Regions from separate parts of the Homo sapiens genome. Here region 1 is linked to region 2. A link means that fine-mapping ties the variant in region 2 to the expression of a gene that starts in the linked region. Tissue or cell type: nucleus accumbens. Region 2 holds a variant in brackets; the other region holds the start of a gene. All regions are shown on one strand. Distances are from middle to middle. Region 1 holds the start of TUNAR (transmembrane neural differentiation associated intracellular calcium regulator). Region 2 overlaps SYNE3 (spectrin repeat containing nuclear envelope family member 3).

Region 1 (5,515 bases), 410 kb after region 2:
GGAATCCAAGCTCTGAGGTTTCATTTATTGTAAGCACTGGGCTCCCTGACCAAATTAGGTGTCAAACTCTACCTGCAGATTGGGAAATTGGGGCTGAAGAAAGAGCCGGCAGCCAATTTGGCACACAGAAATAGTTCTTCTGGAGTTTCTGGGGACCACCTCCCTGTCTGCAACTACCCATAATAACTGGTTGGGAAATTCAGAGATATTGCTCCCAATTTCGCCGGAAAATGTTGGAATGCAACTGTTATACACAGGCTGGGATGCAAAGTGCTTTTCTCAGAAAAGTGTGGCCTTTGGACCCTGGTTTCTTAAGACACAGGTTTCTGTTTCCATGGACTTGCAGGGTTTTTCAATAGGAGTTACTGGCATCTCAATAATAATAATAATTGGAGGAAATGTCTTGTCACTAAGCCAACAAAAACCACTCAGACTCTGCTGTTTCCCAAAGCCCCTCATGGAGGGACTCTGTCCTGTAGAGCTGCAGGGCTGGGGTGTGGGTGTTCCTGGGCAGGCCTGATTCCCCTAAATCTCTGCTGAGTCTCTCCTCTGCATCTTTCTCCCCACATCCATACCATGAGGAAGACAGAAAGGCCAGCTAGGGAGGGTATGGGTTGGTGTTGTGGACGAGGTGGTAGGTGATTCCTATTCTGTAGCAGGGATGGGAGGGAAGCAGCCTTTTGGTAGGCAGGAGGATCTTCTGAGAAGTAGGGGCAGAAGGTTCCTTGCACCATCCAACTGGGGAAGGGGCACAGCGGTGGGCCCTGGGAACCTGCTAACCAGGATGTCTGGGTTCTTCCCCCAGCTCTGCTTCTGAGGCACCCAGCAGACCTGGGCAATTTGCCTCCTCGTCGATAGAGACCATGGTCGCTGCTTGCTCTGACCATGTTTCCCGGCACTTGCCTTACTTCCCTGGACGTTGGGGTGGATTTTGGTGAGGTCCCAGAGAACCAGGAGACAGGCTGCTTATCTTCTAGAAAATCATGTTCACATTCATGGAAGGCCTTAGGTACTAGTACTTAGCTATGACCTTTGGAGACAAGGACTCCATCTTCCTGAAGACGTTAAAATGTCCTGTGTACTGAAAGCAATTGGAGGGGCCTGGATTTGAACCCCAGTCTGTGTCAGAGGTCCCAAGTCTTCCAAGAAAGTGGAAGGCGCCCCGAGGCAGGTTAGAGGGCCTACAAGGCGGGCAACTGGACATGGGGATGGGCTGGGGAGGCGCCAAAGGGCGGCAGGGATTGGGGGTATAGTGGTTTGACCACGACTTAACTACCTTCAGCTGCCAGGCCATCCGCCTGTTCCCTGGAAGATATAAGGAGCTGGGAGTGGGGAACGGAGCAACCTGGGCTTCCATGATGAAGAAAGAGACAGCGCAGGAGCAAAATGTCCAGGAAGGAGGGAGAGAGACCAGAGGAAGGAGGAGGCGCCTCTTTCACCCGCGTCCCCAGGTCCCCATGTACGCCACGTGGGTGGGAGCGTGTCCCACACACCCGCGCGCCCAAAGCCACATTCGCCACGCTCCCGCCGGGGCGGGCTCACCGCGCGCCTCTGGGTGCCGAGCCTCCACAGGCCACATAGCCGCCACCTGCTGCTGCATCCCCACTGCGGGGACAGGGGCACTCAGTGCCTCCCTCCGTCCCCCCCGCCCCGCGAAGGCCTCCCATCCTCCAGGGCCAGGCGGAGGCCACGTCTTTCCCGGGCCCCCTCCCCAACGCGGAGAGGGAAGCGGAGGGAGGAGCTTGGCCCGCAGCCGCCGGCCCTCCCCGCACTGGAGCTCCCCCTCCCCTCCCTCCCCGCCCCTCGGCTGCCGCAGCCCGGCTCGCAGCGCGCGTCAGCGGGGGCTCCCCGGAGCGAGTCGCTAGGTAACGGGGCTGGCTCCGCAGACGCGGGGCCGGGGAAGCCCGCGCGCGTCATCAGCAGCGGCGCCGCGGGGCGGGGGGCGCAGAGACCCTCCCCAATCCCGGCCTGCCACCACCTGGCTCGCGCGCAGCCCCGGCCCAGAATGCCTTAACCTGCGCCGATTGCTGCCGCCGAGGTGCCCCTCCCCTGTAGGGACCCCGACGCCGCCAGCCCCTTCCTCCTTTCCCGCAGGTGCGCACTGCTGTGCTTGCGGCCGGGTGGGCGCCCCGCCGCTGCGGTCGCGGTCGCCGCTGGTAAGCTGCGCTCTGGGGCTTGGGGCAGGAAGCAGTGGGGGGCGCTCGAAGAGCAGGGCAGCTACGGCCACCGTGGCCGCCGGACCGGCCATGTGCTAAAGTTTCTGGGGCTCGGCGCCCCGCTGGGCGCGCAGCGCGGGGAGCAGACGCGCCGTGGGTGGGGCAGCGCGGTGCTGCTGGCGCCCGGCCCCCGCGGGGTGCAGCTCTGCGCGTTCTCATGCTGTCTCTCTCTCTTTCCCTCCGCGCTGCCTCTCCGAGGTCCTCCCGCCGAGCCCCGGCGCGGGGCATGAGGAGCCCCCGGGTGCCGCCCAGAGACCAGCAGGCTGCGCGCACACCTAGCCAGCGGCAGACGGGGACATGAGCAGCGCGCACGGGGTCCCGCGCCCGGCGGCCAGCCCTATCCGGCGGCGGCCAGCGGGTCAACGCTGCCCGGGAGAATGAGGCAGGAGCCGGCGGCAGCCTCCTTTTTTTCCTTCTCCTCGCCTTCCTGCGGCTCCGGCGCTCCGGGTCCGGGCCGGGCTGCGGCTCTGCTGCGTGCCCCGCGCGCCCCTCAACCGCCTCCGGATGCGCTTCTCGGTAAGCCAGGCCCTCCGCCTCGCGAACAAAGCTCCCTTCGCAGGGCCCGGAGGCCGCCTCAGGGCCCCTGTCCTACCCTCCTTCCCCACTTACAGCCTGGAAACATTCGGGGCTTCCGATTGAATCGTTCAATTTCCCCTGCCCCGAAGCCCCGCCTGGAGGCTGAACTGCCCGGGCAGACCTGGTGCTTTCTTCTGCCTTCTGGAGAAAGATGTGGGTTTGACATGCAGGCGGGAGACCTGTCTGGTCTAGATAACGGCATGTGTATGCAGCTAGGTTCAGACTTAGCATTTGGGGGCAACAACTCTTATTTAGTGGGTGTCCAGGCCGTGCCGGGCAGTGTGCCTCAAAGCCGCTCTGGGAAATAGGTCCCCGTTTCTCCTTGGCCCAGATGAGGAAACTGAGGCTTAGAGAGGTTGAATGACTTAATCAAGGTCACAAGGTTAGGAAGTGGGAGACCAGGATTGGAAACCAGGGTACCCTACTTCCCTGCCAGACTGTTCCCTTTGTAACAAACACACCTGTCTCATTTCTTCTACTAACTGCTTCCGTCTCGAGAGTCATTGCGTGTGTGTGAAAATACTTGCTCCAATGAGTATCTGTTCTGATGAAATAAATTGCCTGTAGCAAGCACTTTTTGTCCATCCTGCCATCACGCTGCTGCCAACCCCTAATGTGTACTCTACTTTTTAGTTCAGGTGAGAGGATAATATGTTTTCCTAGGTGTTCTCTTTCCTGGGGTTCTGTTTTCCCAGTCCTCCTGAAGGATGGAAAGGACAGTGGTTCCTCCTGTGTGCCCAGCACATGCTAGGCCTCAGAACTGCATCCTTAACCTTTCCCTGGGGGCAGGGCTCATCAAGGTTACCTGCCCCTGGTTTTGTAAATCTTGGAGATGATTACTTAACCGGAGCGGGGGCTGATCCCAGATGGCCACTGTGCAGGGGCTGGCCCAGTGTTGGCTCATATTTGCCAGCCCTCAGTGTCAGCAGAACTTCTGAGCCCCAAACACTTCTGAGCCCCAAAGAAAAGGAGTTTTAATGCAGATACGATGCCTGATGCATGCCCCCAGTTCTCTGGCTTGCCGCTGTTAGCTGTTTGCTTAAGTGCATTTAGTTAACTGTTTGCTTAAGTGCATTTAGTTAACTGTTTGCTTAAGTGCATTTAGTTCCTGAAGGGGCAAGCCACCTGGAATCAATTGATCCTGGTCTGAGGGGCTTGTTCCATTGGTGAAGTCACAGTGTTGAGCTCAGTTGTCTACACGTACATTTGTGTTGGTGCAGAGAAAGTCCCTTAGCAGTAGGGGCCTCTGTGTCTCTGTTAGTAAAGAGCAAGGGTGGACTGACCAGCCCTTCAGACCCCCTTCAGCTAAATGATTCTGAGTGACAAAACTAGTAAGTTACAGGCTTGAGCTAGGATGTCTTAGTCCAGTCATTTGGACGAACATTCTACACTGAATGGGTTGTTGATTTCCAAGAAGAGGACTTGGTTTCCAGGGAGCTGTGAGATTCAGGTTCAGCCCAAAAGAGGTGAAGCTCGAGCTGTGCTTAATAGATTATTTACTGGGCTAACACATAGTGGCTATAAAATGTTCCAAGCTACCAGATTGGGGTTGTGGGATAGGTTAGGCCTTTCAGTAGGAGAGATGACATTAGCTCCTAAGAACTGATGACATACAATGCATTAAGAAGATGCCCAGCAGGCTAGAAAGCAGCAAGCTGGTGAGCTTTTCCTGCCCCTCCAAAAATAATCAATCATATTTGCATAGGTAAAACATTCCCAGCACAAACAATTACTGCAAATAAATAAAGTGATTTTTTTTTTAGACTCTTCCAACTGCATTGTTTGCTGAGTATATTAGCGATGCGTGGAGCCGGCCTTAGCTTGGCTGCAGAGGGGCTGGGACAGGGAAGGTGGGCTGAAGGATGTTCAGACCCTGAGTTAGTTTTTGGCTGTGGATTAGAGCTAAATCCATCACTTTGACCTATGGGTCGTTAATGGGGTTGTCATTGGTCTTTTTAAGATGTGGATTAATGAACCTCTTAAAGTGTTGCCGAATCCCAAATGAAACGGGCATGTCCCACCTTTTTCCCAGAAACTCGGCTCTCAGCGGGTTTTGTGACTGTTTGAAATTCACAAAACCAGAGCAAAGCTTTCATTTTTGACAGGCTCATAGGGATCTGCAAAGGAAAAATAATGCATCTTATGTAGGGATATTAATCTCCCAGCATTGTGTGTTTTAGCTTCTCATGATTAACTGGTAAGGTTTTGAATAAAAATGAATGCAGAGAAACAATCTTCATTAAGTTGCTTTTGAAAATGCTGAGGTAATTATGAAATAACGATTTTTGTGTCATAGATCATACTACTCATAGCCAAAGCTGGATTACATCACAAAACATTACTCTTGTTACTGATATTTATTTTTTAATTCATTAGTTTTCTCATATTTTTTGCCTTTTTTCTCCCCGTGTGAAAATAAGCCATCGAGAATAAATTCTTCCTTTTCAGTTTTTCTTTGTCTTAAATCCAGTTTTTTTTTTTCTGTAAGATCTCTAAGCTGAACTCTTCCACACCATACATATAATGGCCTCATGTTAAAATATGTTTTAAGTGCCTTGGATTTCTTTTGGGAGAACAAGAGGGTTATGTATCGTAAGTAAATAACAGTGATGAGACATTTCCCTTGTTTGCTTACTCTTCTAAGTCAGGGCTTGAGACCATGCCCTCATGATTGCAGCTGCCACACTTAGCATCATGGGGACACAGCCTGAGTGCTGTGGCAT
Region 2 (5,000 bases):
GCCCACACCGCAACCCAGTCACTACCTGCTCACTATTATTATTATTATCCTTATCTTTGGATCTGTCTTTACTAACAGCAGGCATGGCCTAAAGCTCAAGCTCAGATCCCCAGCCCGTCTCCCTGAGGGCTGGTGGTCAGTGTCCTTAGACTGGCTTCCCAGCAGCCTGCTTGTCTCTGACCCTTCCCCATGGCTGGGGTGAAGGAGAGCTCCTGCCATGTGGAATGCTGCCCCACTGACAGCTGTGTGACCCCAGGCAGGTCACTAGGCTACTCTGGGTCTCCCTTTTTCATCCTGAGACAACGATAACAGTCTCTGCTTGTCCACCTCCCAGGGTTATAATATTAATTTTAAAAACACTTTTATCCAGGTACAGTGCTGCATGCCTATAATCCTAGCACTCTGGGAGGCTGAGGCAGGAGAATTGCTCGAGCTTAGGAGTTTGAGACCAGCCTGGACAACACAGTGAGACCATGTCTCTACAAAAAAAAAAAAAAAAAAAAAAATTAAAAATTAGCCGGATGTAGTGGCATATGCCTGTAGTCCCAGCTACTTGGGAGGCTGATGTGGGAGGATCGCTTGAGCTTGGGAGGTCGAGGCTGCAGTGAGCCGTGATCAAACCACTACGCTCCAGCCTGGGTGCCACAGCGAGACCATGTCTCAAAAAATAATATTAAAAATAATAAAAATAAAATAAAAACACTATGAATTAAACATGGGTATAAGTTAGTGTACTTTGTAAACTGTTGAACAATTATGTAGACCCTTCCCCAATGTGTGCAAATGGGCAATGGTCCCCATCCTTTTTTTACTCCATACAATAATCGTTGATGATGACGATGATGATGACGATGATGATAATAGTATAGAAGGACTTCCCCTCCTACCTTTGTTATCAAAGAGTGAGGCAAACAAGCTCCTTCCAAAGGCTGTCTCTGTGTGCATGTGAGTGGGAGGTGCTCAGGGAGAGTGAAGAATGGGGAGATTCCTCAAGAGAGGGAAAGAGGGTTTGTTTGGCCAAGTAGCAGGATGTGGCAGGGGCCCAGGGGGTGGTGGCCACAGCAAGTACCCACACAGGGACCCCGAGTCCCTCTCAGCAGCGAGCAGTGATGGGGAAAACAAAAGTACCATAGTGGCCAGTGTGGCCTGAAGACCCAAGGGCCAGTGTGGAATGTTCTAGACTGAATACGATTATCCACCCAGGATGTTTCACACCACCCAGGGGCAGGGTTCCACAGCATGGCTGAGGATGAATTTGTTGCCATTCAGAGAGAGATTTAATTTGATTAAAAATAATAGTAGACCAGGCGTGGTGACTCATGCCTGTAATCCCAGCAGTTTGGGAGACCAAGGCAGGAGGATCGCTGAGGCCAGGAGTATGCAACCACTCTGGGCAAGACAGTGAGGCCCCATCTCTCCAAAAGCATTTTTTTTAATTAAAAAAAAAAAAAAACTAGCCAGGCACAGTGGCATATGCCTGTAGTCCTAGTTACTCAAGAGGCTGAGGCAGGAAGATTGCTTGAGCCCAGGAGGTTGAGGCTGCAGTGAGCCATGATCACACTACTGCACTCAAGCCTGGGCAGCAGGGCAAGAACCTGTCACTAAAAAACTAAAAATAAGAAAAAAAAGAGCCGGATGTGGTGGCTCACGCCTGTAATCCCAACACTTTGGGAGGCCGAGGCGGACAGATCACGAGGTCAGGAGTTTGAGGCCATCCTGGCCAACATGGTGAAACACCGTCTCTACTGAAAATACAAAAATTAGCCGGGCATGGTGGCGCACACCTGTGATCCTAGCTACTCAGGAGGCTGAGGCAGGAGACTTGCTTGAACCTGGGAGGCAGATGTTGCAGTGAGCCGAGATCACAACACTGCACTCCAGCCATCACACCACTGCACTCCAGCCTGGGCAACAGAGCAACACGCCGTCTCAGGAAAAAAAAAAAAAGAAAGTAAGATGATATTTCTGATTCCCAGAAATGTGAAAGGAGACTTCATATTCCCCAAGCTAGCAACACAATAAGTCCAAATTTACAAACAAGGGAGCTGGGGACCCACAGAAACCACCAGCCTTGAGGAATGATTCTCTACAGCTGCCAGAGAAGCCTCCTCCACACCTGCTCCCAGCTTCAGCTCAGATGGAGTCCAGCTCTGAAAATCACAGGAGCCAACAACTCTGGGGAAGAAGTGAAATTCCATCTCCCTTGGCCACACCCAGAAGGAGCAGCCAGGTCTGGAATGTCCCATGCGGACAATGGCCCCTTCTCCAAAGCCTGGTGTCCTGACTGTGTGGTCCCCCCAGACCCCTGGACCTTCGTCCTTCTTATCCTCATGAAAGAGGCACAGGCTGGACAGAAGGGGACACAAAGACCCGAGACCCACTGCCTTTTCAAGGGAGTGAGTTTGATGCTTCTTTACCAAGGCAGAGGAGCTGGCTGGTCCAAAGGCAGGCAAGACACCAAGCCCCCTTCCCCGACCTGGAGAAGAAACGTCTGCCCTGAAAGATCAACCTGTAGGAAGTTTATTGGAGGCTTGAAGCCAGGGGAGGCCAGAGGCTGTGGCTAGGCTGGAAAAGCCGAATTTTGAGAAGTAGATTCCACTCTTTTTCACTGCGCTGATGATTACACTCTTTGGCTGGTGTGAGATTCTTTTATAGCCCATCACCAGCAAGGACACAGTCCAGGAGTGCTTGGCAAGG[T/G]CTGCGTGGCCAGCTGGGAGAAAGTACTTGAACTGCAGCCACAGAATTATTCCAATTTGTCGCAGCCAATGAGGGCAAGGGGAAGGTGGGGATCGGATGTAAGGAAACACCTTGGAGAGAAGTATCAGGAGACCAGGAAAGTGGAGGAATGGGGTTAATCAGGGTTTTCCCTCAACCCAGCCAAGACCAGGTGACCCCCAGCTGAGCATTATGCTGAGTGCTAGGGTCCTGGATGAACAAGCTGGTAGGAAAGAGGGCTGCAGATAAGAGCGCAGACGACTGCAAAAAGGGCCAGGAGAGACCGCAAAGTAGTATGAGAGCTCAGGGAGGGATGGGAGAAATCCAGGAAGGCTTTGTGGAGGAGGTGGCATTGGCATGAAGCCTGCAGGTCTCTAATTAAAGACAACTGGAGAAGGATATTTGAGCAAAGGTAGGGAAGTAAGATATATTGAAGGATGAATGCATTGGGAATCCAAGCCTTGAGAAACACCAGGGTGCTCCTGACCAAGACGGTGGCCCAGAAGCTGGTGAGGAAGCTGCCTGGCTCAGGCCAGGACCCAGATACAGGACAAGGGAGCCTGAGATCGTGCCACTGCACTCCAGCCTGGGCAACAGAGCAAGACTCCCTCTCAATAAACAAATAAATACATATGCTGGAACCTGGGAGTGTGGCTGGAAGCTCCTAAGACCCACTGCTGGAGGCTCTGGGGATGGGCAGGGACACTTGGTATGCTGTGTATCCCAGCTTCTAAAACCACAAGAAACGATCGCCTCCATTTCGCCAGCTCTGCCAGCATACCCTGCACTGTGCATACAAGCATGTCTATAAATGATCCTCCTTAATCCTCCCTCCTTCCTGAAAGGCAGCAGCTATCACTCTCCCCGGAAGCAAGCTGAAGCTCAGAGAGCTCTGGGAAATCCTCCTGAGGTGCCACAGCCATGGCAGACTTTGGAGCCCGGGCCTGCAGACCCAGTAGCCAAGCTCTCAACCCAGGAGCGATGGGTTCTCCAATCACACCTTACAGAAAGCCCCCACCCCACGAGGATTCTGGAGTTTCCCTTAACCCCTCGGGAACACAAGGGGTGAGGGGGTTCATTCCTGCTCTACAGATGGGAACATGAGGTCCCGGGAAGGCATGGGACATCCTCCCGGCTGCATGGCTATTAAGAGTCAGAACTGGATCAGAGCCCACGTCCCTGTCACTGCAGCAAACAGGCACTGGAGACAAGCCAACAGAGTTGGTGGAGGAAGCACAAGAGAGACCCCAGCACCCGGGGGCAGGTCCCATGGGTAGGTCGAGAGGCACTAGCTGCCCCCTCTTACCAGCTGGCAACAGGAAAACGTTTTCTTTCTTATTGTGAAATTGGTTTTGAAGTGGCAAAACACACAGTAAATGAAGCATGCCGGAGCCCCGTGGGAGGAGACACTGGCAGAACGCTCAGGCCATGACTCCCCTCTGCCTGGACTCCCACCCCCTCGGGGCTCACAGAAGTGCTGCCTCTGGCTTCCAGGGCCCATCCACCCTGGTCCTGCCAATGTGTCTTCCTAAGGACCACCCTTGACTTTGCTTAAACCAGAACCACCACCTGGAGGGAAAGACCCACCAGCAAAGGGTAGAAAGTTTAAAATGCTAAGCACCCTAACACAGTGGGCACACAGGCAGGGCTGTGATGCTCACAGACAGGTAAGGTCAGGAGCTGGGGCTGAGAAAGGCGGAAACTGGTCAGGAGAGATGCACGGACAGGAGGGTTTCATTTCTTGTGCACACCCAGACCCACACAAAAAAGCATTCCAAGCAGAGGCAACACATGGACAAAGGCTTGGCGGTGGAAGGTCTACGAGGTCTTCTGCCAATCAAAGGAGGGCGTGAGCTTGCAAGGTGTGACAGTGGCTGGAGCTAAGGCCGGTGTAAGCTTGGGAGGTGTGACAGTGGCTGGAGCTAAGGCTGGTGTGAGCTTGCGAGGTGTGACAGTGGCTGGAGCTAAGGCTGTTGTGAGCTTGCGAGGTGTGACAGTGGCTGGAGCTCAGGCCAGTGTGAGCTTGGGAGGTATGACAGTGGCTGGAACTAAGGCTGGTGTGAGCTTGCGAGGTGTGACAGTGGCTGGAGCTAAGGCTGGTGTGAGCTTGTGAGGTGTGACAGTGGCTGGAACTAAGGCTGGTGTGAGTTTGTGAGGTGTGACAGTGGCTGGAGCTAAGGCCAGTGTGAGCTTGCGAGGTGTGACAGTGGCTGGAGCTAAGGCCAGTGTGAGCTTGGGAGGTATGACAGTGGCTGGAACTAAGGCTGGTGTGAGCTTGCGAGGTG

Evidence for each region. PIP is the estimated chance that this variant, and not a neighbour inherited with it, causes the effect. A credible set is the group of variants that fine-mapping cannot tell apart.
Region 1: TUNAR starts here. The variant in region 2 is the best candidate, but not a certain one, in a credible set for the expression of TUNAR in nucleus accumbens (GTEx, PIP 0.56).

Annotation. Positions count from the first base shown.
Region 1 is chr14:95,874,446-95,879,960 of GRCh38, forward strand. TUNAR (transmembrane neural differentiation associated intracellular calcium regulator) reads left to right here and starts at 2,387. Exons shown (of 2, transcript NM_001416131.1): 1 at 2,387-2,732. The coding sequence starts at 2,721.
Region 2 is chr14:95,469,049-95,474,048 of GRCh38, forward strand. All of the region lies in intron 2 of SYNE3 (spectrin repeat containing nuclear envelope family member 3), which reads right to left. Among named protein-coding and RNA genes, the nearest start is that of SYNE3-AS1, 45 kb to the right of the region's middle. The variant T/G (reference allele first, on the strand shown) is at 2,698.